Homo sapiens: one gene and its partners. The protein of the gene in region 2 purifies or fractionates together with the protein of the main gene of each other region. This does not show direct contact. Each region holds a gene or a part of one and is shown on either strand. Other genes may lie near its edges.

Region 1 (7,244 bases), on a different chromosome or scaffold from region 2:
AAAACCACCAACACTCAGAAAAATATGCACCCAGCAGGGAAAAAAACAGCAACAAATATTGAGATGCTTCCTACAACCGGAATCTGTACTAAATTGTTTTGTTTGTTCTTAATCCTCACTACTGCTTCGGAAAAACACTGCTGGGGGCTGACATAATGGGTAAGGAAACTAAGGTATAGAGAGATCACAATTACCAAGGTCAAACAGCTAGGAAATGGTGACACCAGAATTTAAACACTCTGACATCAGTGAGTTAAGCACGAGGCCATACTCTCGAATGTGGATCAGGCAGAACACTCAGGTCTGGCTAGAACCATTAATGACAATATAATTGTCCCCTTGAAGGCCAAAAACCCCAAAATCAAAAACTGAAATTGGGAGGAACAATCGGCAGGACAGGCCAGCAGTGTAGAGCAGCGGGCACACAGGCACGGCACTGGGCACAGCTCCTCGCTTATAAGATGGACAGGCTGTGAGCCCCAAGAGCCCTTTCTGCTGCTAAGGCTCTGAAACAGGCAAGCAGGCAGACAGGAACCCACGCAGAGAAAGCAATGATGCCCGCTGGGTGCCTGGGATATAGACAAGGAAATTCCCTGTAGATACAGGTAGCAGAGGAAAGGACTGAAGCAGAAGGCGACACGTACAGAAGCTGGCCCGTCCTCCGCAGAGACAAAGACTACAGGCAGTGACACGCGGGCAGAGCTTCCCCTATGGCAAGAACCCTCTCCCACACACTGATGCTGGACAGGTAAAAACAATGAGAGCTTCGTTTGCTCAAAACACTGTATTGTGGTCATCTTATGGGAGCAGCTCCGCCAACCCAGGAGCCGTGCCAGGTCTCAGGGACTGCCCTACCAGCACCAAAAGGGAAACCCCGGGAGAACCGGTGAAGCACCATCTGAGAGCCTCAAAGAACCGCCCAATCAGCTCCACTTGGTCCAGCAGAGTGGAACTTGGCCTTGCAGCCAGAGCTCAGAATCAGTACCTGCTTTTCTGCTTATGAACAACAAAAACCATGCAAAAGCAACTTAGCCTTTAAGACTTGGTTTTCTCTTTAAACGAGGGTCGTATCTACTCCATCCAGGTGTTGTGTGGCAGAATGACATTTGGAAAGCACCTTTTCCTGCCCTTTCCCAACTCTGACACAATCTCTGTGAGCGGAAGACCCTCCTCTCTAAGCATGGAATTTTACAATTGCAAATATCGCTTACTGCACACCCAGTGTACGCAAAGCCACATGCCACACACTTTACATGTTACCCCATTTAATCTCAGCTCTGCCTCTGACTAGCTGAGCCCTGAGAAAGTTTTTAACTTTTCTGAGCCCTCAGTTTCCTCCCCAGTAGAGGTGGAAATCATTTTGGCCTCACAAGGCTGTTAAAAGGATCCACTTAGTAAAACATGCTAAGAGTTTAGCGAAGAGCCTGGCACACGGTAAGCGCTCAGAGTTTAACTACATCTATCGTTACTATCATCCTTTTTAATCTTCTCAAAATCCGGTAACAAGAAAATAATAATCAGTCTACAAATGGAAAAAAATATATAAACGTATTAAAAGCAGTTACTAAACGACAAAGCAGGTATCTAAACTTCCTGATGTGCTCAACTCCAAAGCCTATGCTCTTGAGCAGTCCATCAACTAAGACAGAGTCAGACCCTCAGTAAACGTTATTGCTTCCCCAGGACACTGTTTCCTAATACAGCCCCTACCCAACTCTAGCCCGGGTTCAAAGGAAAATTCCTCAGCCCTCATTTCGTCCTCCGAACGAGCTAGGAACATGGGCAGCTGAAGCCTGAAAAGAAACAAGTCTCCAATCTTCCCTGGTCCTGTATTTCTTCACAAACTGAAACACGGAGGATTTTTAAAGCGTCTTAACAACTCTCCCACTTCTAATATTATTGGAATCCCTAAGATCAGGGCCCCAGGCTTTTTGTTCTAACCCATCACAATTTTCGATACCCTGAAGGGAACCTGCCTCCCACCTTCCCCGTAAGTGAAGAGTTTAGCGCAGTGGGCCAGATCCCTCTTCCTCCCTCAGAACCTGTTTTCTTATCTCTATATTGAGATCTGAGACTGAGTATTATCAGGTGCCCTGAGATTGGGATTGTAAATGATTTGAGGTTTGTCTCAAACACTCCATATCGCGATTCTCGGGACCGCCAAAAGCCCCGCATATGCAGGATGTGTGCGTGCGGACACTCAAAGAATGCAGATGCTTTTAGGCAACATGTGCCAAACACGTTAATATGAGGCGCCCCACTACCAACAGACGGGGCAGAAACCACCTGGCGGGAGAGATCAGAGCAAATCAGCAAAAAGGAAAAGGGGTACGCGAGGGGCCCGTGGCCTCCAAGCATCCGCCGAAACGGCTCTGCCCTCATCCACGTGAAGGAAGGAAAGGGGCCCCCCCACCAAGTTCTCACAACCGCCATTTTGGAAACAAAGGGGGCGTGGAGACGCTGCCGTGGGCCCGACCGGAAGCGGAAGTGCCAAGGCAGCGGGAGAAAAGAGATTACGGGGACTAACATAATCTCCTTTTCAGAGAAACCAAAAAGATTTTAAAAAACAAAAGTTCACGTCGAGGCATCTGGCGCGCTCGTGCCGCGTCCCCCGCGCCACCTCCGCCAGGACCACGTGGGGCGCAGGGACAGCCGCCGTGCGCATGCGTCACGGGCCCGCGCCCCGCCGCCCCCTTCCCCTCGCCTAGCGCGCGGCGGAACGCTGGGGACGTCACGTGAACGAGGCGCGCGCCACGGAACCAGGGTTGGGGGGCGCCGCGCGGCCGTGAAGTGGGGGGAAGCGAGGGAGAAAATGGCGGGGGGGCAAAGAGCGACGCGAGGAGCCGCCCACACCTCCGCCCCGCGACCCCGGTGCCCTCACCTTGTTTATTCTCGTTGAGCTGCCGCTCGAACTCGTCGAAGTCCGACATGCTGAGGCGGCCGCGTAGGGCCCTGTGCAGCTTTCGCCTCGCCTTGCCGCCCGCTCCAGCCGCTTCGGCTACTTCCGCCGCTGGCTTCGGCTACTTCCGGCCGCCGCCGGCGCTTCGCCACCTCCTACCTAATCAAGCCTCCGGCAGCCCTCCCCGCCCCGCCCGGGCTCCGCCCCCTCACCCGCCCGCCCGCCCGCGAGCTTGCCCCTCCCCCCGAGCCTGGCTCCGAAGCGCCTCGGCTATCTCCGGATACTGGACGAAGGCGAAGCAGGCGGCCGCTTCGGCTGCTTCCGAAAACACCCGAACGTAGGGTTTCGCCGACTTCCCAGGTTTCCGTAACTTTTCCGAGATTATCTCCTCAACGTTCGGAGGTTTCCGTGTGTCCTCGTGTGCCACTGCGCCCAGTCCCCTCTGCGAGTTCGGGTTCTTCCAACAATTCAATCCGTCCCAGTCTTTGGCTTCTTCCACGGACTTGCTCCGATCTTCTCCGCCGGCCCTGTCCAAGCAATCGGCCACTTCCGACAATCCTAACCGTCCCGGCCTTCGGCTCTTTCCGGAGATTTCCGGATCTCGCCCTCGGGCCCCTCCTGGGATTAAGCTCGAGTCCGTGTTTCGGCTCTTTCCGGAGATGCCACTTGCTCACGCCTCCGATCAGAGAACTTCGGCTCCTTCCGCCACCGCTTCGTGAAGGCCTCACTCTCCGGGGACAGCTTCGACTTTTTCCGTGGGTACCTCGGCTCCTTCCGGCTTCGGGAACGGAAAAGGGAAGGAGAACAGAGACGAGATGGATCAGGGGAAGGGATAGAGAAGGGGACGAGGTCCTAGTTCTCGGCACCTGGCTCTCCGGGTGGGGAAAGTGAAAGAAAAAAAGGGCCGGCCTCGCGGAGGGCCTGAGAAGGTTGTGCCAGACAAAAGCAGCAAGAGGGATGAAGGGTGCGCGCGACCGCTGCGGAGGTTGCCAGCGCGGCTTTTTGCGCCTGCGCAGGGTGGAAGCCGCGGGTGAGGGGAAACAGGCTTCTGCGCCTGCGTAAAAGTCGTTCTGTGGCGCGCTCTCCCACTGCTCCCGTGAAGGGGGTTGCGGGGACCAGGTTTCAGTCCCCATTGCGCGTGCGCGAGATTTCCCTTACAACGGTGAAAGTGCTTAATCCCCAGCCGTTAAATCCGGCCACCCTCTTGGTTGTCTCGGCAACCACATCAACGCGCTCCGGCTCTTCCCGCCGCGCAGGCGCGGCAGACGGATCATCTGGCATTACTTCCGGGAGACAGATGATCTGGCGTTACTGCCCCCTGGCGGCCCAACGGAAGTATCCTCCAGACTTGGCCTGGCCGCTAGGTGGCCTCCCTCGCTAGAGGTCATCGACTCACGCCTCTCGCGCCGCGCTCCGGTCTGGGTAGCCCAGCGGGTAGTGTCCACGCTTCTTTTTACTTTTTTTTTTTTTTTTTTGAGACGGAGTCTCTGTCGCCCAGGCTGGAGTGCAGTGGCGCGATCTCGGCTCACTGGAACCTTCGCCTGCCGGGTTCAAGCGATTCTCCTGCCTCAGCCTTCCAAGTAGCTGGGACTACAGGCGCCCGCCACCACACCTGGCTAATTTTTTGTATTTTTAGTAGAGACGGGGTTTCACCGTGTTAGCCAGGATGGTCTCGATCTCCTGAACTCGTGATCCGCCTGCCTCGGCCTCCCAAAGTGCTGGGATTACAGGCGTGAGCCACCGCGCCCGGCTGTGTCCGCGCTTCTTTTCCCGAGCTCTGCCTCCGAGTTTTCTGGGGCGCAGCTGCTTCACTCTCCATCTCTGCCTCCGGGGGGCTAATTACACCGTATCCTACCCGTCCTCCCGCCTGACCACCCACCCCCTTGGAAGCCCCCGCAACCCCGTCACCGTCTTCGGGGCGACGGCCGCCCCCTCCCAGGCACGTCCCCCTCCTAGGAAGAGGCTGAGGCCAAGTTTATTCCAAATTTTCACGTCGTTTTTTAATTTAAATTATCTGAATAATTCTCTGTCTCACGCGGAGTTGGGGAGGTCTGTCCGGGAATCAGGTGGGCAGCTCCTCCGCGGGGCCAGGGCGGAGACGGGGTCTGTACAGTCCCCCACTCGAGGGGGGGGCACCCGCCTGCCTGGTTTTCCAGGAGGAAGGGGCCCGGCGAGGACAGGGCTGGGCAGCCCAAGCGGAAGGGGGTGCCGGCGTTCGGGAAGGGGCCGCGGCCGGTCCGGGGCCGTCGCGCTTGGGGGCCCGGCTAAGGGAGCCCCCAACCCAGGGAGCGAGGAGGAGGGGCAGGGGCGCGGCGGGGAGAGGGGCAGGTCATCCACCGGGGTCCACGGGGGAGGAAGGCCCGGGTGGAGGCGCGGAGGCGTGGTGCGATCACCGCTTGAAGCGGTAGGTGATGGGCAGCAGCAGCTTGCTCTTCTTGAGCGCCTGCACCTTCTTGAGCGTCTCGTCGTCCAGGGCCAGAAAGCAGCGGCGGGAGTACTCGAGCAGGCGCTCCTTGGAGGGGTCGAACTCGCCCACCTCGGCCAGCTTCTCGGGGGCCACAATGAGCAGCTCGGCGATGGGCGTGGTCAGCGCCACGGTGTTCCTGTCCACGCGGTGGTGCTCGAAGGCCCGCGACATGCTCTTGAGCTTCTGGAAGGTGCCCAGGATCTTCTTGTACCGGCAGAGGACCCCGTCGGCGTCCTTCACTGAGGGGTGGAGGCGGGGACACGAAAGTGAGGGGCAGGGCACAAGACTGAGGGGGCGGACACGGGAAGGGAAACGGCCATGGGAAGAAAGGATCTCGGCGAGCAGAGGCACGGGCCGGTGCAGGTGGAGACGGAGAACAACAGGCAAGGAAGGGGCAGAGAGGAGGGGAAGAATCGCAGCCAGATCTTGGACCAGTGGGAAATGGGAAGAGGCAGGCCCAGGAAGGAGAGTGAGGAGACAAAATGAGCCAAGAGGCCGGGTTCAACCCACGCGGTCCCAGCACCCCCCGACACCCCGAGCCATCACCCTCGTCTCCCTGCCTCAGGTGAATTCACTTATTCAAGTCTCACCCTCCCCGTGAGGTAGGTCCTACTGCGCACCTCCTCCTTACTGATGAAAGTTAAGGAGGTGCCCAAGGTGGCCCTGCCCTCGACGGTGGACCAAAACTTAAAAGTAAACCCAGGACAGGCCATGCGCGGTGGCTCACGCCTGTAATCCCAGCACTTTGGGAGGCCGAGGCAGGTGGATCACGAGGGCAGGAGATCCAGACCATCCTGGCAAACACGGTGAAACCCTGGCCTCTACTAAAAATACAAAAAATTAGCCAGGCGTGGTGGCGGGTGCCTGTAGTCCCAGCTACTCGGGAGGCTGAGGCAGGAGAATGGCGTGGACCCGGGAGGCGGAGATTCCAGTGAGGTGAGAATGCGCCACTGCACCACTCCAGCCTGGGCGACGGGGCAAGACGTCCCCCCCGCCAAAAAAAAAAAAGAAAGTAAACCCAGGACCACACGTGGAGGAGGGAGAGACAGAACCCGGTGGGTCTTTCTCCAGCAAGGCTGGAGGGGCTTGGAGAGAAAGGGGGACCTCTGGGAAGGACACACAGCAATTCAGCAGCCCGGGCCCCTCAGCGCCCGCCCCATGCACCCCACTCACCTCGCTGCCTCTCCCGGGCCTTGGGCTTCCCAAAGCGCCTCCGACTAGCACCTCCCTTCTGCTTCTGCCGCCTCCTCTCACTGGCGCTGCCTTCTTCGGACGCTCCGCTGAGGGAGGAGGCTGCTGACTCAGGGTCCGAGGCCTCGCCCCCAGCCCCACCACGGCTGTCCCCCTCCATCCGCCTGGGCCCAGGCTTCATCCGGCAGTGGTCCTCTGGGGAGATGGAGACACACACATGAACCAAGGGACCAGACATCCCATCACAGGTCCCGGGACTGAGAGAGGCTGCAGTCCCCGAACTGGATCCCCCAACCTGGGCTGGTCCCCTAAAGAGACAGAGAGACAAGGAGTACGGTAGAGACGCTGGTGGCTGAGTAGAGCCAGTTGGGGTCTGTGGGAGGTGGTAATGGGTGGAGCATTTTCTCAGAGGCCTGGGTTGGCAAGAGGTCTTACGGAGGCAGCCGACCAGGGGCCTCAGGACCCCTGTGACTATGCGCGGTTCCCATAGGGGAGGGAGAAATTTCTGGGGACTGGGCGGGACCTCTGGAGAGTAGCCTCTGGAAACCCAGGAGGCAGGCAAGGCCTTGGCTGGAGTCGGGGGGTCAGACCGAGAGAAATCAGGGGCCCTGGGTCCAGCAGGCTGGGTCCCACCTCCATCTAGACAGAGGGAGCCGGCAGGCGGAGGCCCAGACACAGATTCCTCTA
Region 2 (5,533 bases):
TGATGAAACGCCGTCTCTACTAGAAATACAAAAAATTAGCTGGGCATGGTGGCAGGTGCCTGTAATTCCAGCTACTCAGGAGGCTGAGGCAGGAAAATCACTTGAACCCAGGAGGCAGAGGTTGTAGTGAGCCAATATTGCGCCACTGCACTCCAACCCAGGCAACAGAGACTGTCTCAAAAAAAAAATTAAAAAATTAAAAAAAAATTAGCCCCTGCTACTCTGGACACTGAAGAAGGAGTTGGAGGCTGTAATGAGCTATGATCGCACCATGGTACATACTCCAGCCTGGGTGACAGAGCGAGAGTCTGTCTGAAAACACACACACATTCCAAGGTGGCGATAAAACCATCTCCTTCTATTTGTCCACCCTAGGAGCAACCTGGTCCCCACAGCACACAAACCCTAGGTTCTCCTGGCTGAAAGCATCGGAGGTGCCACTGCGGATGGTGAGGAACAGAAAGTTACTAGGGGCGAGGGGACAAGTGAGAAGGCAGTGAACCCAGAACTAGATTTGCATTCCGATCTTGGGTTTATTCAACACAATTCTTCCACTCTACACAACAAAGTACAAACACAATGTCATCTAAAATGCTACAAAGGTATAAAACTCAAAAGAGAAATTTTATAGTACTGACTGTACAATGAAAGCAAAAAAGAAAAAAAATAAAAGCAATGTACATGTTGCCAAGATAACCTGAAAGACCACCATGAACGGCAGGCACAACCATGGCTGCGTGATGACTCCGCAGAGCTGGCTCTCCACTCACTCGCCAATTTCAGAGTACAGTGGTGGGGTGCGGTGTGTGCATCGGTGCACGGACAGACAGAACCACGAGCAGCAACTACCATGGGTGAGAGGATCTTTGAGGGGGTGTGACCCTTGAGGTCAGAAGAGGCCTCGAGAGGCCAGGCCTAACAGGGTTGGCAGCTGCACTAAAGCCTGGGGCAGCTCCCTTTCCAAAAGGACACTGCCCAGCAACAGCAAGGGCACGGCCTGGCCACCATCCCAGGTCATCGGGGAAGGGAAAAGTGTGCTCCCAGGTAAGCAGGGTCAAACCACCCCCAAGAGCCTCACTTTTCCCTGGTGGCTCTGCCACTGAACTGACTCTTAGAAACCGGAAACGGATGAGCTTTCTAGCCAGAAAACCGGAGGGAATCTTGACAGGCACACAGCATCCAAACCAACAGCACTTCTGCAGCCGGGGCCCGGCTGGCAGAGGGGTGCTGCCTGCTGCCTGCAAATCCTGCCAGAGTCAAGGGTTTGCTTTCCTACTGGTCTTCCTTTGGCTAGAAAAGTGACAAAACTGAGCTGGGTGGGGTATAAGTTACAGGGGCGAGAGCTTCAGTGGCCTGTTTATCGGGAGGAGTTGGAGCTGGAGCGGCTCCTGTGGCGGCGGCGGCCCGGGGACCGTGATCTCCGGCGCACGGGGGACCTGCGCCTCGGGGAGCGGGACCTGCGGGAAGAGGAGAAACCACATCAGAGTAGCTCAGGCTGTAGGGGCAAGCTAGCTTCTTTCTGGGCAATTCCCCATAGTTTTACTTTTTGAGATGGAATATCACTCTGTCTCCAGGCCAGAGTGCAGTGGCACGATCTCAGCTCACTGCAACCTCTGCCTCCAGGGTTCAAGCGATTCTCCTGCCTCAGCCTCCCATGCAACTGGGACTACAGGCGCGCGCCACCACGCCCAGCTAATTTTTGTGTGTGTATATATTTATTTTGAGATGGGGTCTCACTCTGTTGCCCAGGCTGAGTGCAGAGGCGCAATCTCGGCCTCCCAGGTTCATGCCATTCTCCTGCCTCAGCCTCCCGAGTAACTGGGACTACAGGCACACGCCACCACGCACAGCTAATTTTGTTTTGTTTTTTTTAGTAGTGACGGGGTTTCACCGTGTTAGCCAGGATGGTCTCGATCTCCTGACCTCGTGTTCCGCCCACCTCGGCCTCCCAAAGTGCTGGGATTACAGGCGTGAGCCACCATGCTAGGCCTAATTTTTATATTTTTTGTACGGATGGGGTTTCACCATGTTGGCCAGGATGGTCTCGACCTCCTGACCTTGTGATCCACCCACCTCAGCCTCCCAAAGTGCTGGGATTACAGGCGATTGCTACCACACGTGGCAAAGTTTTACCTTTTTTTTTTTTTTTTTTTGAGATGGAGTCTCACTCTGTTGCCCAGGCTGGAGTGCAGTGGCATGATCTTGGCTCACTGCAAGCTCCACCTCCCGGGTTCACGCCATTCTCCTGCCTCAGCCTCCCGAGTAGCTGGGACTACAGGCACCCACCACCACGCCCGGCTAATTTTTTTGTATTTTTAGTAGAGACAAGGTTTCACTGTATTAGCCAGGGTGGTCTCGATCTCCTAACCTCGTGATCTGCCCGCCTCAGCCTCCCAAAGTGATTACAGGCCTGAGCCACCATGCCTGGCAGAAGTTTTACTTTTTAATACTAGAAGTTGGGACAGGTCCCACCTGATGGGCCTGCCCTGAGCTCTTGGGAACGGGTGCTTGTGAGACCCAAGGCAGAAGCCCAGGCTTTCCTCCTCTTCCCCAAAGGCTGAAAGCACAGCTCACCACCGGCAACGGAAGACCAAACTGTGGCCTCTGCCGAGGGATTACCACCCCCGCCCCACAACTCTTCTGACCCCCAACTTCTCCCTCTCCTAGCTCTTCTTGTTAGCTCAGAAAAAGGTGGGCCTGCACCTGGGCTCACAGGTCTAGTGGTCTCCTAGGAAGGCCACACCACGCCACTGCCCAGACTCAGAAAGCTGTGTTGGTGCAACTCTAGGGCGTCTCCTGCCTGTGGCTTACTGCAGCTGTGGCCCTCCTGCTCTCTCCATGAGCTCTGAAGGGCTCCTGCTCTCTGCCAGCCCGCACAGCAGTGGAAGGCAGGCAGGGCTGAATAAAGGGTCTGAAAGTCACTGCGGTCACATGAGGTTTGTGGCCTGATCAGTCCACTGAAACTACAAATTGTTTACCTTCTCCTCATCCGTGGGGGAGACCTGCGCCACATAGGCGGTGGTGGCAACATTCTCCTGGGAGGGCTGAATCTCCTGGGGGGTGGCCTAGGCCAGGGGGCCAGCACGGCGGTGGCAGTGATCTCCTGGCCATCAATTTGTCCTGTTGAAAAAGACAGCAAGTCATAAAATATCTAACAAGCATCTACCCTAGACAATGCATGCCACAGTGAAAGACAGGCCTGGGGGGACAATGACAATGTAAGATAATCACAGAAACAGGGCCGGGCATGGTGGCTCACTCCTGTAATCCCAGCACTTTGGGAAGCTGAGGCAGGTGGATCACGAGGTCAGGAGATCGAGACCATCCTGGCTAACATGGTGAAAATGTCTCTACTAAAAAGACAATAAATCAGCTGTGCGAGGTGGCGGGCGCCTATAGTACCAGCTACTCGGGAGGCTGAGGCAGGAGAATGGCGTGAACCCGGGAGGCAGAGGCTGCAGTAAGCAGAGATCGTGCCACTACACTCCAGCCTGGGTAACAAGAGCGAAACTCCGTCTCAAAAAAAAAAAGATAATCACAGAAATAACATCATGACTAATGTTTCATGAGGAAAAGAGGCATAAAAACTAACAGGACACACCAATCTCCACGTGTCGAGGCAGCCTCCCAGGTCAAGAGTCATCCAAGTCAAGAGCTAAAGAATGTGCTGGAGGCCAGACGCGGAGGCTCACGCCTGTAATCCCAGTGCTCTGGGAAGCCAGGCAGGCGGATCACAATGTCAGGAGTTCGAGACCAGCCTGGCTAACATGGTGAAACCCCATCTCTACTAAAAATACAAAAATTAGCCGGGCGTGGTGGCGTGTGCCTGTAATCGCAGCTACTCGGGAGGCTGAGGCAAAACAATCTCTTGAACCCAGGAGGAGGAGGTTGCAGTGAGCTGACATCATGCCACGGCACTCTAGCCTGGGCAACAACTGAGACTCCGTCTCAAGAAAAAAAAAAGAAAAGTAAAGAATGTGCTGGAATCTGCTAGGTGGAAGAGAAGGGCTATGCTGGGCCCTGTGCTGGGAAGGACCCAAAGCACTGGTGAGAGAAGGTAGCATCGAGAGCGAGTGACAGGCAAACAGAAGGCCCCAGGGCCAGGGTGGGGCTTCCTCGCAGGACCATGCAGGCAGTATCCGCGTTTGCGCTTCCTTCTCCTCCAACCAAGGGAAGCTGGGTCTGGGGCTAAGAGAAGTGGGAGAAGTTCTCTTAGGAGGGCTCTGCAGCACTGAGAGGGGCCTGAATCAACATCAAATGATTTGGCAGGGAAACGGAAGGATTCAGGGGACAGCTGGGAAGTAAAATTGCCAGAGCTTGGTGATGGATGGGATGGGGGTGGTGAGGTGTGAACTTCCACTGACGGAGAGGTGGGGCTGCGGTGGGAAGCTGCATGAAGGAAATTTTAGGAGATGCCAAAGACTTTGTGTTTGGAAACAAGCAGTCTCAGAGAGGTGGCTCTGCATGTAGATGGCACTGAAACACACGCCATGTGCATGAAGCGAGGAGAGGCAGTGTGGGATGTGGGCTCCAGGGAGAGAGGAAAGGAAATAGAGGTGCAAACCCAGGAACCCCAGGGGAGCATGCACCCCGACCTCAAGAATTGTCTGGTAGCTGGGGATACTGGGAGCCCAAGCGCAGCCCCTTCTGTGCCCTAAGGGGTAAAGGGCTCTTTTGTTTTCTCAACTACCTTTAAGGCACATGGGGACTAACTCCGGCATGTGGCTATGTATTCAGAACATACTTAAGAGGTTTAACTTCAGTAAACTCAGCCTAAGTTAGCCCAAATTAGGGATTTCACAGCACTGACTCTATAATAATGAAGAAAAATCCATCTTCTGTGTAGCTGCCAGTAAAGGCCAACCCCTTCTCATCTCCTATGGAGACAGCATGGACTCACTCCATTCAAAGACAGAAGGGGAGACACACAAAAAAAATCCTACCAGAATCTTACGAAAAGTTGGAATGTCTGTAATCACGCCCACCCAGAAGGTACCCGGGTCCCCTGGGTTTTTAGCTCAGCAAGCACTCAGACTGTCAAACAGCAGATAATCAGCAGACTCCACAGCAAAGGTGTGACTTACAAGGCCAACAGCTGATGTGAGCGCACAGAGCTCCTAACCCATTTCAGGACTTAAGAAACTTGAAAGAAAAGTTAGCCAAATATCAAGGAAACTTTCCTAATGCCTGAAGGGCAATTACTGAAAAAAACCAGCTAAGCTACTTATACAGTTTGTAACAGGGCCTCGGAAGACGGAAAGTTCTGGGGCACGCACACTCCACTCCCCACCAGGCCTGGCAGCCCAGACAGCACTGTGGGCTGTGTTCTCAGTGCCAGCGGCCTCAGTCACAGCAGCAGGGAGTGGAGCAGAGATGACTCCACATGCCTCAAAATGCTGCACTGAGGACAAAATGCCACCCGAAACTATTCACAAGGGTCCATGTGCTTTTAAAACCATTCTGCCAGATACAAATAGCTATAAACGTCATGAGTGGTTATGAGATACAAGTGTTTAAGAAATAAACTGTATAG
Region 3 (7,026 bases), on a different chromosome or scaffold from region 2:
GCACAGTGGAGAAAGGCTAAGGGTGAGGCTTGCTGGATCCATTGCTTGGCAGTGACCAAACCAAACTCCTTCCATAGTACCCCCGGCCACCTCCATCCACCCCAGGGCCAAGTACTCAGCTGCTCAGCACTCCTACTTAAGGTAATCACAGTGGCTACACCCACACCTGATGGCCTGAGAAAAGCTTGTGTGTGGCTGCAGGGGTGTGATGCAGGCAAGAAACTGAGTGCCAGAAGCAATACTTGGGATAGAGCCAAGAAGGGAGTTATCCAAGCCTTACCTTCCACTTGGCCCTGGCAAAGTTCTTTTCAATCTGGGCACAGACACCATCCTTGATGTTCTTATCAGAAGCAGCATTGCCAGAAATCCTGGAAAGGGTGCAAGTGTGTCTGGATCTGAGAGAATGAGCCTTTGTGGAGACTCTGCTCAGCCCTTCTATGTGGCATCCAGGGACTACCAGGCAGAGCCTCTGGGCTGCCCTGAGCTCTAGGTACCTGCACCCCTTCCAGGCCTCAAAGATGGGGCTGCTGGGTGTGAGGGGGACCCTGGCCTCTCCCACCCTCCCCTGGACCCTGCTCACCACTCATGGGAGATGGCCTCTTCTGCAGTGATCCGCTGGTCTTGCTCCACCTCCATCAGCCTTGTGACCAGGTCTTTGGCTGTGGACAAAACCAAGAAGGGGATAGTCATGGGCACCCCATCTCAATGTCTAGAGGTGATAAATGGGCTGGGGGACAGAAGCAGAATACCACAGAGGAAGATGAGAGCAGGACACCCTCCCCACTCCCTTGCGTTCTACCAAGTGCTGGGCAGGCACCTCCTCACCTGCCTGCGAAATATCATCCCAATATGGAGAGTCAAACTCATAGTCACCAGCCAGGATCTTGCGGAAGAGATTCTTATCATGGTTCTCATAATCATCTTCTTCCACCTCCTCATAGAAAGGTGGATTGCCTGAAAGCCTGCATGGGGGAAGGGTCACACAGAAAGGCCACAGACACATGCCCCCACCCCATCTGACTGCAAGCCTGCTTGTCCATCTGTCCACTCACAGGATGTACATGATGACTCCAATGGCCCAGCAGTCCACAGGGCGTCCATACCGCTGCCGGCCTACCACCTCTGGGGCTACAAACACAGCGCCCATCTGCTGGTCAGTATCAGGCCTAGCCAGGTCCAGTACCATCCACACCAGCTTCCTGAGATGAGCACATTTTCCCCCTGCCCAGAGCAGCTCCCTGAAGGCTGCCCCCCATTATCCCCCTGCCCCTGCCCCACCCCCTGCTTGCCCAGATACTCGGGGGTCCCACAGGGCTCCTTGATGAGGCCATTTTCTAGCTTAGCCAGATGGAAGTCACTGATGACAATCTTCGAGTTCTTCAGCCGGTTGTAGTAAACCAGGTTCTCCAGCTGTGGTGTGAGAATAGCATGTGGGTGAGCAGAAGACACCATGAGGACCTTGGAGGCTAGACCAAGGCCCTGAGGTGCTGCCCACCCCAGCACCAGCCCAGCTGCCAACTGGCCCTTTGACTCTGGCTCTGCCCTCACCTTGAGATTCCTGTGCACGATCTTGAGTGAGTGCAAATAGGCCACGGCCTCCAGGACTTGCCGTACCACGTTGCTTGTGTCTCGCTCCGAGTAGTAGCCCTGGTCCAGGATCCAGTCAAACACCTCCCTCCCCGTGGCCCTGAGGGACACCAGCCCCTGAGCCTGGCGTGGGCAGAATCAGGGGTAGGGCAGGAGCACTTGGGTGAGCTGCCTACGCCAGGCAGCTGGCTGAGCAAGGCACAGGGACCTGGGACGCCAAGGGTCCAGAAAGGGGGTTTCCTTAGCTGCAGAGGGTGGGACAGGTGAAAGCCCTGGGCGCTGGGGAATCTTGGGTCCCCAGACCCACACTCACAGCTCCAGGAAGATAAAGTACTCCTTGCGGGTCACAAACACATCCACCAGCTGTAGGATGTTGGGATGCTTCACCCTGGCGACAGGGAGGGGAGCCAGTAGTTAGGGCTGGATGAACCCCTGGGAGAGGCTGTGGTCACCACAGTGGCCACAGCAGACTAATTGGCCAGAGGCTGGGACTGCCTGAGGCCACTTGCCCTCTAAGCCCTTCCCTGCTGCCTCCCACCCCGCCCCAATCCCAGGCCTCAAACTCACATCTTGAGGATGCCTATCTCGTTCTTGGCAGCTTTCCGCACCTTGCGGCCGTCCCGCTTCTGGAACTTCTTGCAGGTGTGCAGCTTGCCTGTCGTCTTGTCCTTGGCCCGGAAGATTTCACAAAACTCCTCACTGCAGCCGACAGGCACCCACTCAGGCCTGGCCTTAGCATCAGCTGCACTCCACTGCCACTTCCCTAGCCCCTGCTCACCAGCCCACCCAGCCTTGCCTGACAGGCCCGGCACTCACGTCTTGATGACCTGTCCCAAATCATATCTGTCAGTCACCTCCGATGGCTGGTTATAGTTCTTCTTGTCGCCCAGAGTCACACACCCAAACGGCATTGCCAGGCTCTAACCTGCGGGCACAATGGGGTCTGGCTTAGCTGTACTACTCTCCACTTCCCCACAACATAGGGGCTGCTTTTGGGAGACCCCAACCTGGCTCAGGCCAAGCTAGGGGCAGAGACCATACCAGGAGGGGCTAGAGGATAGGCAGGCTTAGATCCTACCCCTGCTTTTCTGGCTAGACATCCAGCTACTCAGCTTGGCTGCCTGAAGTGCAACAGCCTACATATGAAAAAATGTATTAAGCTGATATATAAGGGAATAGTTTTGTATTCTATACATTCAAAAAAAAGGCTTATCAAACAGTTTATTTAAATTTCAGCTATTTTACAGATGAAGGGGGCTATAACCACCCACCCACCTGCTAGTCATCTCTGAAGGTCTAGAGCTAACAAGTGTTAGTGGATATATGAAGAACGTGAGCACTGCTAGGAGAGGGCAAACTCCCCTTTGTAAAGCAGTTTGGTAAAACCACTAAAGTCAAACAAACATACCCTATGAACCAGCAATTGCACTCCTAAATACGTGCCTACAGAAGTGCACATATTCGTGCATCAGGACAGTCATACAATGCTCATAGTAGCCATATACATAATCGCCAAAAATTGAAAACAGACCAAATACCACCACCAACAGGATGTATTGTGGTAGAGTCACACAATGGAATATTATATAGCAATGGAAACAAAGGAGCTACAGCTATACCCAACCACCTGGTGACTCTTACACAGTGTTAAGTGCAAAAAGACACAAAAGAATACATATAGTATGAGTCTATTGATAGAGTTCAAACAGGCAGAACAAACCCGTAAGGGGGATACAAACACAGCAGTAGAGCTATAAAGAAAAGCTAGGAAATAAGCAGAGTCAGATAATGGTCCCTTCTAAGAGAAAAGGAGGGGTTATGATTGATTCAGGACACATGGGGGGATTCTGGAAGACCTATTTCTTTTCTTTTCTTTTCTTTCTTTCTTTCTTTTTTTAGAGACAAGTCTCACTATGTTGCCCAGGCTGGAGTGCAGTGGCTATTCATGGGCACAAGCCCACTACTGATCAGCACAGGAGTTTTGACCTGCTTCGTCTCTGACCTTGGTTGCTTCACCCCTCCTTTAGGCAACCTGATGAGCTCTAGCTCCCAGGAAGTCACCATACTAATGCCAAACTTAGTGTAGACACCCAACTGGCATAGCGCACTGCAGCCCAGAGCTCCTGAACTCAAACGATCCTCCCACCGCAGCTGGGATTACAGGCACCCGCACCATGCCCAGCTGTTCTGTCACCCAGGCTGGAATGCAGTGGCACCCAGGCTGGAATGCAGTGGAATGATCACAGCTCATTCCAGCCTCAACCTCCTGGGCTCAAGCGATCCTCCCACCTCAGCCTCCTGAGTAGCTAGGACTGGACCATAGGTGCACACCACCACAACTGGCTAATTTTTAAAAATTTTTTTGTAGATACAGGATTTCATTACGTTGCCCAGGCTGTTCTTGAACTCCTGGGCTCAAGTGATCCTCCCACCTCAGCTTCCCAAAGTGCTGGGATTACAGGCATGAGCCACCATACCTGGCTTGGGTAAATTTTTTAAAGTTTACATACTGATGTACCCTCACAAACTCTTTTCTGGAAGAATACTGAAGGAAATAAGAGTTCTCTCCTGGGCAAAGAATTGGATGTCAAAAAGGCAGACATATCTTTTGTTTACTAATTTTCTGTGCGAATTTTTACTATTTTACTATAATGACTTCGATGAATTTAGTAAATACTGCACTCAGGCACAGTGCTTGGGGGATTCCTCAGAGGGATAATCTGGGTGGAGAGGCAAGGTAAAGCTTTGGAGGCAGCATTAGGACTCAGTAGGAAAAGATTTGCCAGGAGGTATGCAGGTGTACTGGTCAGGAAGAGCAAAACAAGCCTGATCCTGGTCCCAGCTTTCGGCTCTGCATATGCATTCATGCCCACTGGGGCCCACAGGGGACCTGGGCTGTCAGGTCCAGGTGCAAGGCCCCCAAACAGAACAGATATAGCTGGCTCAGTGAGCGCTAGGCACTCTTTCCACCTGGGGCACGGTGTCCCACAGGTCTGCAATCCTGCCAATTACAGCCCAATCCTCATCTGTAGTGCTAGGGGGGCTGACTCCAGTGTCCAAAGGAAAAGGCACTCATAGCCCATGCTCAAAGCTGGGGGTGGGGGGTTACTGACTAGACCTTCACAGATCTGACGCCAGGGTGTGCCTCCATAATACCCGGTCAGTGTGACACTGGGGCTACAGCAAGCTCTGCACTGAGGCTGCGCTGAAATTGCTCTGCCTCTGCTGACTGTGCATGTTTTCCCTCCATGCCAATTAGCACTTGCTGTGTGCAGGGCCTGAGCTAGGGCCTGGGGGTACCTAGATGCTCCCCGACCTGAAGGCACTCACAGCCTCAAGGTAGTGGAGAAGGGAGGAGGCAAAGGAGGCAGCTTGGCAAGATGAACTCTGCCAGCCAAAGTCAAAGACCAGGACCCAAACGAGCCCCATAGCCAACCCTGGCTGCTACTTGCTTCCTCCCAGGCAGAAGCCAGCCACCAGGCTGTGATTCCCAGGAGTCACAGCCCTGGAAATTCTCCCTCAGATTTGCCTTCAGCATTAGGGAACAAACTCTATCATTCCTTCATCTGGGTTGCTTGGGCTCAGGGAATACAAATGCATTTCATCAGCATTATTCCAGACAGGGTTTAAGCCATCTTGCGAGGCACAGCAGAGACAAAGGAGAGGCTTTGAAGATCGTCACTGACTGCATGTCTGCCACCATGGGCACAACCCTGCACTCCTCCACTGGGGAGAAGCATGTGGCCAGAATCCCATCCTCACAGCTGAGAGCAGAGGCATAGCCAGTTACCATTGCCGGCTACACATTTTCACACCATAACAGCTGCAGGAGGGGGCCTGCAACAGTCATCTCAGTCTGAGGGCCGTGTACTGGGCAGGAGGATGGTACCTTAGCCTGCAGTCTCCCAAGAAGGCTGGGAGGGACCTGTGCCCTGGCTCTGTTGCTTTGCTTACACCATTCCCTCTGGCAAGAGTGCCCTTCCCCCAAAAGCCTCCCGTCAGATTCCTATTTGTCACGGCAGAGTTATTTATAACATTAAAAAAAATTCAGCAACTACCTAAATGTCCAACAACAGGTGACTCGCCAGCTCAACTGTGTCCACTCAATGGTAGGAAGTGTGGGCACTGGCAAGAGCTCTGCCCACCTTGGCTTTCCTGTGGAGCAGCTGCCACATGAGCGAGGTGCTGAGAGCAGAACTGAATCTCTTCTTTCATTGTGATTTCTGACATTATAAGGTGGTTTGTGCAACACATTGTCCAAAACAATCCTGATGCTCGAAGGCCAGACTCAAAATGGCCCTTTTCTGAGATACCTTCCACAACCTCCATGCCCCACCCCCCACCCCACTCCAACAGCTCCCAGCTTTGCCAGTGTGGCGTGGGTGGGAGGTTTTGTGCATGCCTGTCCTTGATCCTGGCCCCAGCTTTCGGCTCTGCATATGCATTCGTGCCCACTGAGGTCCAGGGCTGGTCATGGGGGTCTGTCCCATGAAAGGCACAGAAAACTGGGCCTCCACCCCGTAATGTCAGCCTGGAGCCATGTCCTGAAGCCTCAAGGCTGAGATGGGAACAGATCTGTCTCCCCTGCCCCCTACTATGGCTGCCCAAATTTCAGCCAGTCACTCCTCCTCCTCCTCCTCCTCACCAGTCTAAGTATACTGGCTTGGGGCCCTGGACTTGGCCCCAGGGCAAAGAGAGGAGAAAGAGGGGCCTGGCTTTCAATTAGCACCTTGGTTCCCTCTGCCCACACCCACTCCACCATCTGCTATCCACTGTTGCTCCCTGGGAGGTTTCGGGTGTGTGCACCAAGCCCTGGGCACCTGCTTGCAACAAAGGAGACCTGGGAGGAACAGCCAAGGGACAGCTCTCAGAAAGAGAGGAGGCCAAGTGGAAGGGGTTTGTATTTTTCACCCCCATGGCCCAGACCCAACACCCAACAATGGAGAGCTCTCCTCTCAGCAACACAGGATCTGAGCTCTTCCTCAGGTACACTTAGGCCATGGAAGGGCATGGGAGCTCCACAACAGCCATTTCCCTGGAGACATGGCTCCCTCCACTCTCTGCAGAGGAACTGAACAGTATGCACTACCGGCTGCCCAGAGGGAGCTTGTGGGGAGTGCAGGCCCTGGTGCGGCCATTGCCCTCCAGCTGGCTCTCATGGAGCCTGAGAGCCAAGCACTCCCCAGTTATGGCCTGCTCCCAGGGCCTGACCACTGGACTCAGGGAATTGAGCCTCCAGCAATCCTGAGGGGTCCTCTGTTGGTGCCCTGGTGATAAATGGTCCCCCAGGGACTCTGCTGCATCTTTAGGTAAGTCTGGCCCAGGGAAAGCCCAAACGGGACAAAGGCCAAGAGGTCCGGAGGCCCCACATTGGGGTCCTGTCCCCTCCTCCGCTGAGATCATCCTGGTTCAGGCCCTACCTTTCATAGACATAAACAG
Region 4 (7,026 bases), on a different chromosome or scaffold from region 2:
AAACGGGTGACTTTACAAGGCAGGTTAGAAAAAGCCTCACAAGATGCTAACATTTAATGAAGAGCTGAAAGCTGTCACAGCAGCAAGGAAACACACCCGGCAACGCCAGACAGCAGGCATTCTAACAGTTACTGTGGAGCATGACAGTGGGACCAATGAATGCTGCAGGGCTGGGGAGTGGACGAAGGCCAAACAACAGCTGAGCTTCCTGAAGGGCAGCCAGAGGGAAACCACCCCAGCACACTGTGTGAGTTCCCTGGAGCACTTGCTTACCCGGGGTGGGGGGGCCACAAATGTGACTAAAGGTAAAAAGCAAATGCAGCAAAGCAATGGTACCCCCAAGTCCTGAAGATAGAGAACAAAAGCTCAAAGAAGGTAGCACAGACCCAATGCCGGGCAGCGCCCCACAGCCAGCGTATGCGTGCAGCGCCCTGACGGCAGCTCTCCCTCAGGACATCACTGGTTGAGGGCTCATCTAAGTAGCAGCCCAGAGCAGAGACTCAACGGAAGTGGGTCGTGGAGTTGGGAATTAGGCTTTGAGGTACTCGAGGTCCCATCTTGGAACTCTCACTCTTTGGAAGCGTGCTTGCCTCAACAAGCCTCCATTTCTTTATCTTAAAAATGGGAGTAGCAACCCCTGCTGCACTTGGAAGCTGTGAGAAAGTCAGTAACACCAAGTACAAGCGCTCAGCAAGGAGGCACCGTCCCCTTGACGGGAGCTGTTCATTGTGACAAGGCACAGCAAGCTTCTATAGCTATGAGTGGAGGCTCTCAAGGGCACAGAAACCCTACTGAACTTGATCCATTCTTTTATTTCTTTTCTATTATGGAGAAGTTCAAGCATTTAATGGAGGCAGAGCAGTATAACGAACTCCCATGAGCCCGCTTCCATTATCAACACGTGGACGGACTTGTTTCATCCCTATCCTCCCACAGCCCACTGCATTTTTTTGAGACGGAGTCTTGCTCTGTCACCCCGGCTGGAGTGCAGTGGCATGACCTCAGCTCACCCCAACCTCTGCCTCCTGAGTTCAAGTGATTCTCCTGCCTCAGCCTCCCAAGTAGTTGCAATTAGAGGCCCCTGCTACCACACCCAGATAATTTTTATATTTTCAGTTGAGACAGGGTTTCACCATATTCACCACTCGAACCTGGATCACTCAAGTAATCCTCCCACCTCAGCCTCCCAGAGTGCTGGGATTACAGGCGTGAACCACCACGACCGGCTGGATTATTTTAAATGAAATTCCAGATAGCACACCATTTTGGTCTCTAACAAAGGCTTTTAAACATCATAACCACAGTGCCACTATTACATCTTAGAGTTAACATTTACTAATTCCTTAACCTCATCTATGATCCAGTGTTCAAATTCCTCAATTGGAACTTTTTTGTTCGCCCAATTGGAACTTACTTGTTTGTTTTTTGAGAAGGAGTCTTGCTCTTATTGCCCGGGCTGGAGTGTAATGGCGCTATCTCTGCTCACTGCAAACTCCGCCTCCCGGGTTCAAGCAATTCTCCAGCCTCAGCCTCCCGAGTAGCTGGGATTACAGGAGCCCACTACAATGCCTGGCTAGGTTTTGTTTTGTTTTTGTTTTTGTTTTTGTTTTGGTATTTTTAGTAGAGATGGGGTTTCACCATGTTGGCCAGGCTGGTCTTGAACTCCTGACCTCATGTGATCTGCCTGCCTCAGCCTCCCAAAGTGCTGGACAACAGGCATGAGCCTCCGTGCCTGGCCTGGAACTGTTTTTTTTTTTGTTTTTTTTTTTTTTGAGATGGAATCTTGTTCTGTCACCCAGGCTGGAGTGCAATGGCGTGATCTCGGCTCACTGCAACCTCCGCCTCCCAGGTTCAAAGGATTCTCTTGCCTCAGCCTCCCGAGTAGCTGGGATTACAGGTACACATCACCACGCCGGGCTAATTTTTGTATTCTTAGCAGAAACAGGGTTTCACCATGTTGGCCAGGCTGGTCTCGAACTCCCAACCTCAGGTGACCCACCTGCCTTGAAGGATTACAGGCGTGAGCCACCACGCCCGGGTGGAACCGTTTTTAAAAAGCATTTCTGGCCGGGTGTGGTGGCTACGCCCTGTAATCCCAGCACTTTGGGAGACCGAGGCGGGCAGATCACCTGAGGTCGGGAGTTCGAGAACAGCCTGACCAACATGGAGAAACCCTGTCTCTAAAAATACAAAATTAGCCAGGCATGGTGGTGCATGCCTGTAATCCCAGCTACTCAGGAGGCAGGGAAATCGCTTGAACCGGGGAGGCAGAGGTTGCAGTGACCCTAGATCGTACCACTACACTCCAGCCTGGGCAATAACAGCAAAACTCCATCTAAAAAACAAAAAACAAAAAATGAAAAACACTTTTGGCTGGGCATGGTGGCTCACACCTGAAATCCCAACACTCTGGGGGCCGAGGCAGACAGATCACCTGAGGCCAGGAATTCAAGGTTGCAGTGAGCTATGACTGCACCACGGCAGTAAAGCCTGGGCAACACAGCACGACCCTGTCCCTAAGAACAAAACAAAACACAACAAAAAAAAAAGAGGCTGAGCACAATGGCTGACACCTGTAATCCAGCACTGAGGGAGGCTGAGGCAAGAGGATCACTTGAGCCCAGGAATTCAAGACCAGCCTGGGCAACATAGTGAGACCCCGTCTCAGTTTTAAAGTTTTTCCAAAAAAGAAAAAAAAGAAGACCCACAGTGGATGTGGTTGGTTAAGATATAGACAAACTAGGCCGGCTGCGGTGGCTCATGCCTGTAATCCCAGCACTTTGGGAGGCTGAAGCAGGTGGATCACCTGAGGTCAGGAGTTCGAGGCCAGCCTGGCCAACATGGTGAAACCCCATCTCTACTAAAATTACAAAAATTACCTGGGCATGGTGGCGCACGCCTGTAGTCCCAGCTGCTCAGAAGGCTGAGGCAGGAGAATCACTTGAACCCAGGAGGCGGAAGTTGCAGTGAGCTAAGATAGTACCACTGCACTCCAGCCTGATTGAGAGAGCGTGACTCCGTCTCAAAAAAAAAAGGAGGGGGGTGACCAGGCACGGTGGCTCATGCCTATAATCCCAGCACTTTGGGAGGCCAAGGTGGGCAGATCACAAGGTCAAGAGATCTAGACGATCCTGGTCAACATGCTGAAACCCCGCCTCTACTAAAAATACAAAAATTAGCTGGGCGTGGTGACGCACGCCTGTAGTCCCAGCTACTTGGGAGGCTGAAGCAGGAGAATCACTTGAACCTGGGAGGCGGAGGGTGCAGTGAGCCAAGATTGCACCACTGCACTCCAGCCTGGCGACAGAGCGAGGCTGCCTCCAAAAAACAAACAAACAAACAAACAAACAAAAAGACATAGGTAAACTAGTTAAGACTGTGACTGTGTTGTCTAGGCAAGAGGTGACCTGGGTGGTGATGATGGACATGAAAAGAAGGGTCAGATTTGTGACATTTAGAAAATAACACAAATAGGTCTTGGTGAGAGGCTGAGCAAAAGGTTAGAAAAGGTGTTAGAAACAAACTGCATGGCAAAAAATGAGGTCATGACCGGCACAGCTGAATGTCTATGTCCCAGAGAAAACACCCAAAGGAAACCAGGTTGGTGGCGAGGGAAAACCCCTGTGGTTTGGACACTGAGTCTGAGATGCCTCTGAGGCAGGACATCAAGACAGCGTTCCGACAGCCAATGTCCAAAGAGTGCACCGCCAGATGTCTCTGTCACGCTTCTGCGTAAGCACCGTGAGGAAATCCTGCACTCCAGGATTTGGAGGAAAGGGATTCATCAAAGTTCACAGGTATAGGAGGAAAACCTGTCTTCTCACTAGAGTCATGTTCTGAGAAGTGCGTCGTTTGATGATGATGTCGATATGCCAACATGAGATGGCACTTCCACGAGCCTAGACAGCATACCTAACACTCCTGGGCTAGAGGGTGCGTCCCACTGCTCCGAGGCCAAGCGTGTTACTACACCAAATACTACAGCAATCCTAACACAATAGTAAGTATTTGTGCATCTAAACGTTATCAAAGCATAGAAAGGGTACAGTAAATAGACGGTATAATCTTTTTTTTTTTTAAGACAGATTTTTGCTTGTTGCCCAGGCTGGGTTGCAGTGAGCCGACGCGATCCCGGCTCACTGCAACCTCCGCCTTCTGGGTTCAGGAGATTCTCCTGCCTCAGTCTCCCGAGTAGCTGGGATTACAGACGCTCGCCACCACGCCCAGCTAATTTTTGTACTTTTAGTAGAGACAGGATTTCACCACGCTGGCCAGGCTGGTCTCGAACTCCTGACCTCATGATCCGCCTGCCTCGGCCTCCCAAAGTACTGGGATTACAGCGTGAGCCACAGTGCCTGGCAAAATATGATATAATCTTATAGGATCACCATCACATCCACGGTCCCCTGCTGAGTGAAACACTGCTATGCTGCCTGTGACTGTACAGTTTTCACTTTCAGAATAAAGAGCCACTGGAGGTTGACATCTGACCCTCTTATGAGTTTGGTTAATGGCAACAACACACCTGTCTTGTACTCCAATTCCTCCTCTATGTGGAGGGGATGGAACATCCTCAGCCCAAGGGTTGGGGACCTAAGGTTAGAGCCAGGACAGACCACTATCCCACAACCCACCACTTCAGCCTGTGACACCCAGCTGGGTTGTGGGAGCCCCTTAACTGTCCTCCCATGCAGGAGGAGCCCAAGGTACCAGGGGTCTCCCTTCCTGCCAACTTTTACCCTATGTTCTGCTGCTGAAAAGCCTAAACCAAAAACAGTGCTTGTGAAGTGGCAGGGGCTAAACAAATGAACTAACAACCCTGTTCCCCACAACACAGGCCTTAGGGAGACAGCAGGGTCCTGGGTATGACCTGGGAAGAATACAGAGGGTTTGGGAGAGGAGAGAGCCAAATGGTGGATGAGAGACTTACACATTTTAAGCTCTGTCTCCACTTCTTGCTGTCGCCGCTCAATCTTTTCCCGTCTCTGTCAGGAGAAAGGGGAGGTGGAGAAGTGAATGCAGATAGAAGTGCCCTAGTGTCAAGGATCATCTGGAGACAGTGGTAAAACAGGGGGTCAGGAAGCAAAAATGACATACTTTCCTCTCCATGCGCTCCTCTCGGGTTTCAGCACGAGTTGGAGGAGGGGCATCTCGAGGGTCCTGGGAACAAGAAGAGAGGTGACAGGGTGGGAAGGACTGGGGGAAATGGCAAGGGACACTCACCAAGGAAATAAACAGGTTAACCCTCCCACCCCCACCCCCTACAAAAATAAACATCCACGCACACTTCCCCTGACACAGTGGAGGGAGGGGAGTGGCACAGATCAAAGCAAGGTCTGCAGCCACGCACAGTGGCTTCCACTTGTAATCGCAGCACTTTGGGATGATGACACAGGGAGAATGCTTGAGCCTAGGGGTTTCAGACCAGCCTGGGACAACACAGTGAAACACCATCTCCACAAAAAATTTAAAAATTAGCCAGGTGTAAAGGCCGGGTGCAGTGCACACGCCTGTAATCCCAGCACTTTGGGAGGCCGAGGCAGGCGGATCATGAGGTCAGGAGATCCGAGACCATCCTGACTAACATGGTGAAACCCCACCTCTACTAAAAATACAAAAAATTAGCCGGGCGTGGTGGTGGGCGCCTGTAGTCCCAGCTACTCGGGAGGCTGAGGCAGGAGAATGGCATGAACCCAGGAGGCGGAGGTTGCAGTGAGCCGAGATCGCACCACTGCACTCCAGCCTGCACAACAGAGCAAGATTCCGTCTCAAAAAAAAAAAAAAAAAAAAAAAATCCTGTCTCAAAAACTAAGCATGGTCCATGGACCAGTACTATCTAAACTGTTGCTGGACTGTGATAAGTACAGAAACCAGGACTAAGTGTTCAGGAACTTCTACAGTAATTTCACAATTTGATGTCCACTGACTCTTAATACAAATTTGGTCTTTTATTCTGTAGGTCTTTTTTTTTTCTGAGACGAAGTTGTGGTCTGTTGCCCAGGCTGGTGTGCAATGGCGCGATCTGGGCTCACTGCAACCTCCGCTTCCCAGGTTCAAGCGATTCTAAGCCCTGCTTTCCCCCCTGTGCCCGTCTCTCTAAAAGGAACCCAGCAACTGACTAGAATCGTTCAAGCGGTTCTCCTGCCTAAGCCTCCTGAGTGAGTACCTGGGATTACAGGCACACGACAGCATGTTGGCTAGTTTTTGCATTTTTAGTAGAGACAGGGTTTCACCATGTTGGCCTGGCTGGTCTTGAACTCCTGACTGTAGATCTTTCTTTAAAAAGTAATTCTATCATATTTATCAAAAGCAAACAGATTGGAAACAGTATCTGTCCTTCACCAAAGACAGTTTGAAAAGCACTGGTACAGGTGACATCTAGCTTTATAGTATTTAGGAAACACCCTGTCTTCCATATTTAGGAAAGACATTGCTTCTCACAGCTCCAAGTATCACTCACATTGAACAAAGTGCCAGAGGATGTGATGGGAGTGGAGTGATGGCAGGGCCCTGCTTATGAGTGCCAGTGAGGATGACCAGGCCTAAAGCAACATAAGCTGACAGAACAGGGCTCCAAAGCCCACAACTGCACACCCTCTGAGGGCCAAGGCAGCTCTTAAAGGTCTCATCAACCACACATTAAATAGGAACTGGCTGGTAGGGTGCAGTGGCTCATGCCTGTAATCCCAGCACTTTGGGAGGCCAAGGCAGACAGATCACAAGGTCAGGAGTTTGAGACCATCCTGACCAACATGGTGAAACCCCGTCTTTACAAAAAATACAAAAATTAGCCAGGCATGGTAGCGCGTGCCTGTAATCCCAGCTACTCAGGAGGCTGAGGCAGGAGAATCCTTTGAACCCGGGAGGTGGAAGTTGCAGTGAGCCTAGATCACGCCACTGCACTCCAGCCTGGGCAACAGAGCGATACTCCATCTCAAAAAAAAAAAAAAAAGGTCGGGTGCGGTGGCTCACGTCTGTAATCCCAGCACTTTGGAAGGCCAAAGTGGGCAGATCACAAGGTCAGGA

The links.
Region 1: the proteins of RNPS1 (region 2) and U2AF2 purify together in Homo sapiens (co-immunoprecipitation; 7 studies listed by BioGRID and IntAct, with this or other methods). This does not show direct contact.
Region 3: the proteins of RNPS1 (region 2) and CAMKV purify together in Homo sapiens (affinity purification with mass spectrometry; 4 studies listed by BioGRID and IntAct, with this or other methods). This does not show direct contact.
Region 4: the proteins of RNPS1 (region 2) and SNRNP70 purify together in Homo sapiens (co-immunoprecipitation; 8 studies listed by BioGRID and IntAct, with this or other methods). This does not show direct contact.

Annotation. Positions count from the first base shown.
Region 1 is NC_000019.10:55,650,791-55,658,034, reverse strand, and holds the start of U2AF2 (splicing factor U2AF 65 kDa subunit), read right to left. Parts: upstream 3,001-7,244; 5' UTR 2,931-3,000; coding exon 2,882-2,930; intron 1-2,881. Other genes in the region: CCDC106 (coiled-coil domain-containing protein 106), read right to left, coding at 5,289-5,605, 6,540-6,752. UniProt on the Homo sapiens protein: Plays a role in pre-mRNA splicing and 3'-end processing. By recruiting PRPF19 and the PRP19C/Prp19 complex/NTC/Nineteen complex to the RNA polymerase II C-terminal domain (CTD), and thereby pre-mRNA, may couple transcription to splicing.
Region 2 is NC_000016.10:2,252,607-2,258,139, forward strand, and holds the end of RNPS1 (RNA-binding protein with serine-rich domain 1), read right to left. Parts: intron 3,121-5,533; coding exon 2,979-3,120; intron 1,458-2,978; coding exon 1,358-1,457; coding exon of another isoform or gene 1,291-1,357; 3' UTR 514-1,290; downstream 1-513. UniProt on the Homo sapiens protein: Part of pre- and post-splicing multiprotein mRNP complexes. Auxiliary component of the splicing-dependent multiprotein exon junction complex (EJC) deposited at splice junction on mRNAs.
Region 3 is NC_000003.12:49,859,891-49,866,916, forward strand, and holds part of CAMKV (caM kinase-like vesicle-associated protein), read right to left. Parts: intron 3,771-7,026; exon of another isoform or gene 3,485-3,770; intron 2,513-3,484; 5' UTR 2,499-2,512; coding exon 2,404-2,498; intron 2,287-2,403; coding exon 2,155-2,286; intron 1,976-2,154; coding exon 1,901-1,975; intron 1,688-1,900; coding exon 1,549-1,687; intron 1,411-1,548; coding exon 1,290-1,410; intron 1,129-1,289; coding exon 1,053-1,128; intron 963-1,052; coding exon 826-962; intron 660-825; coding exon 581-659; intron 369-580; coding exon 281-368; intron 1-280. UniProt on the Homo sapiens protein: Does not appear to have detectable kinase activity.
Region 4 is NC_000019.10:49,088,425-49,095,450, reverse strand, and holds part of SNRNP70 (U1 small nuclear ribonucleoprotein 70 kDa), read right to left. Parts: intron 5,161-7,026; coding exon 5,098-5,160; intron 4,986-5,097; coding exon 4,931-4,985; intron 1-4,930. UniProt on the Homo sapiens protein: Component of the spliceosomal U1 snRNP, which is essential for recognition of the pre-mRNA 5' splice-site and the subsequent assembly of the spliceosome. SNRNP70 binds to the loop I region of U1-snRNA.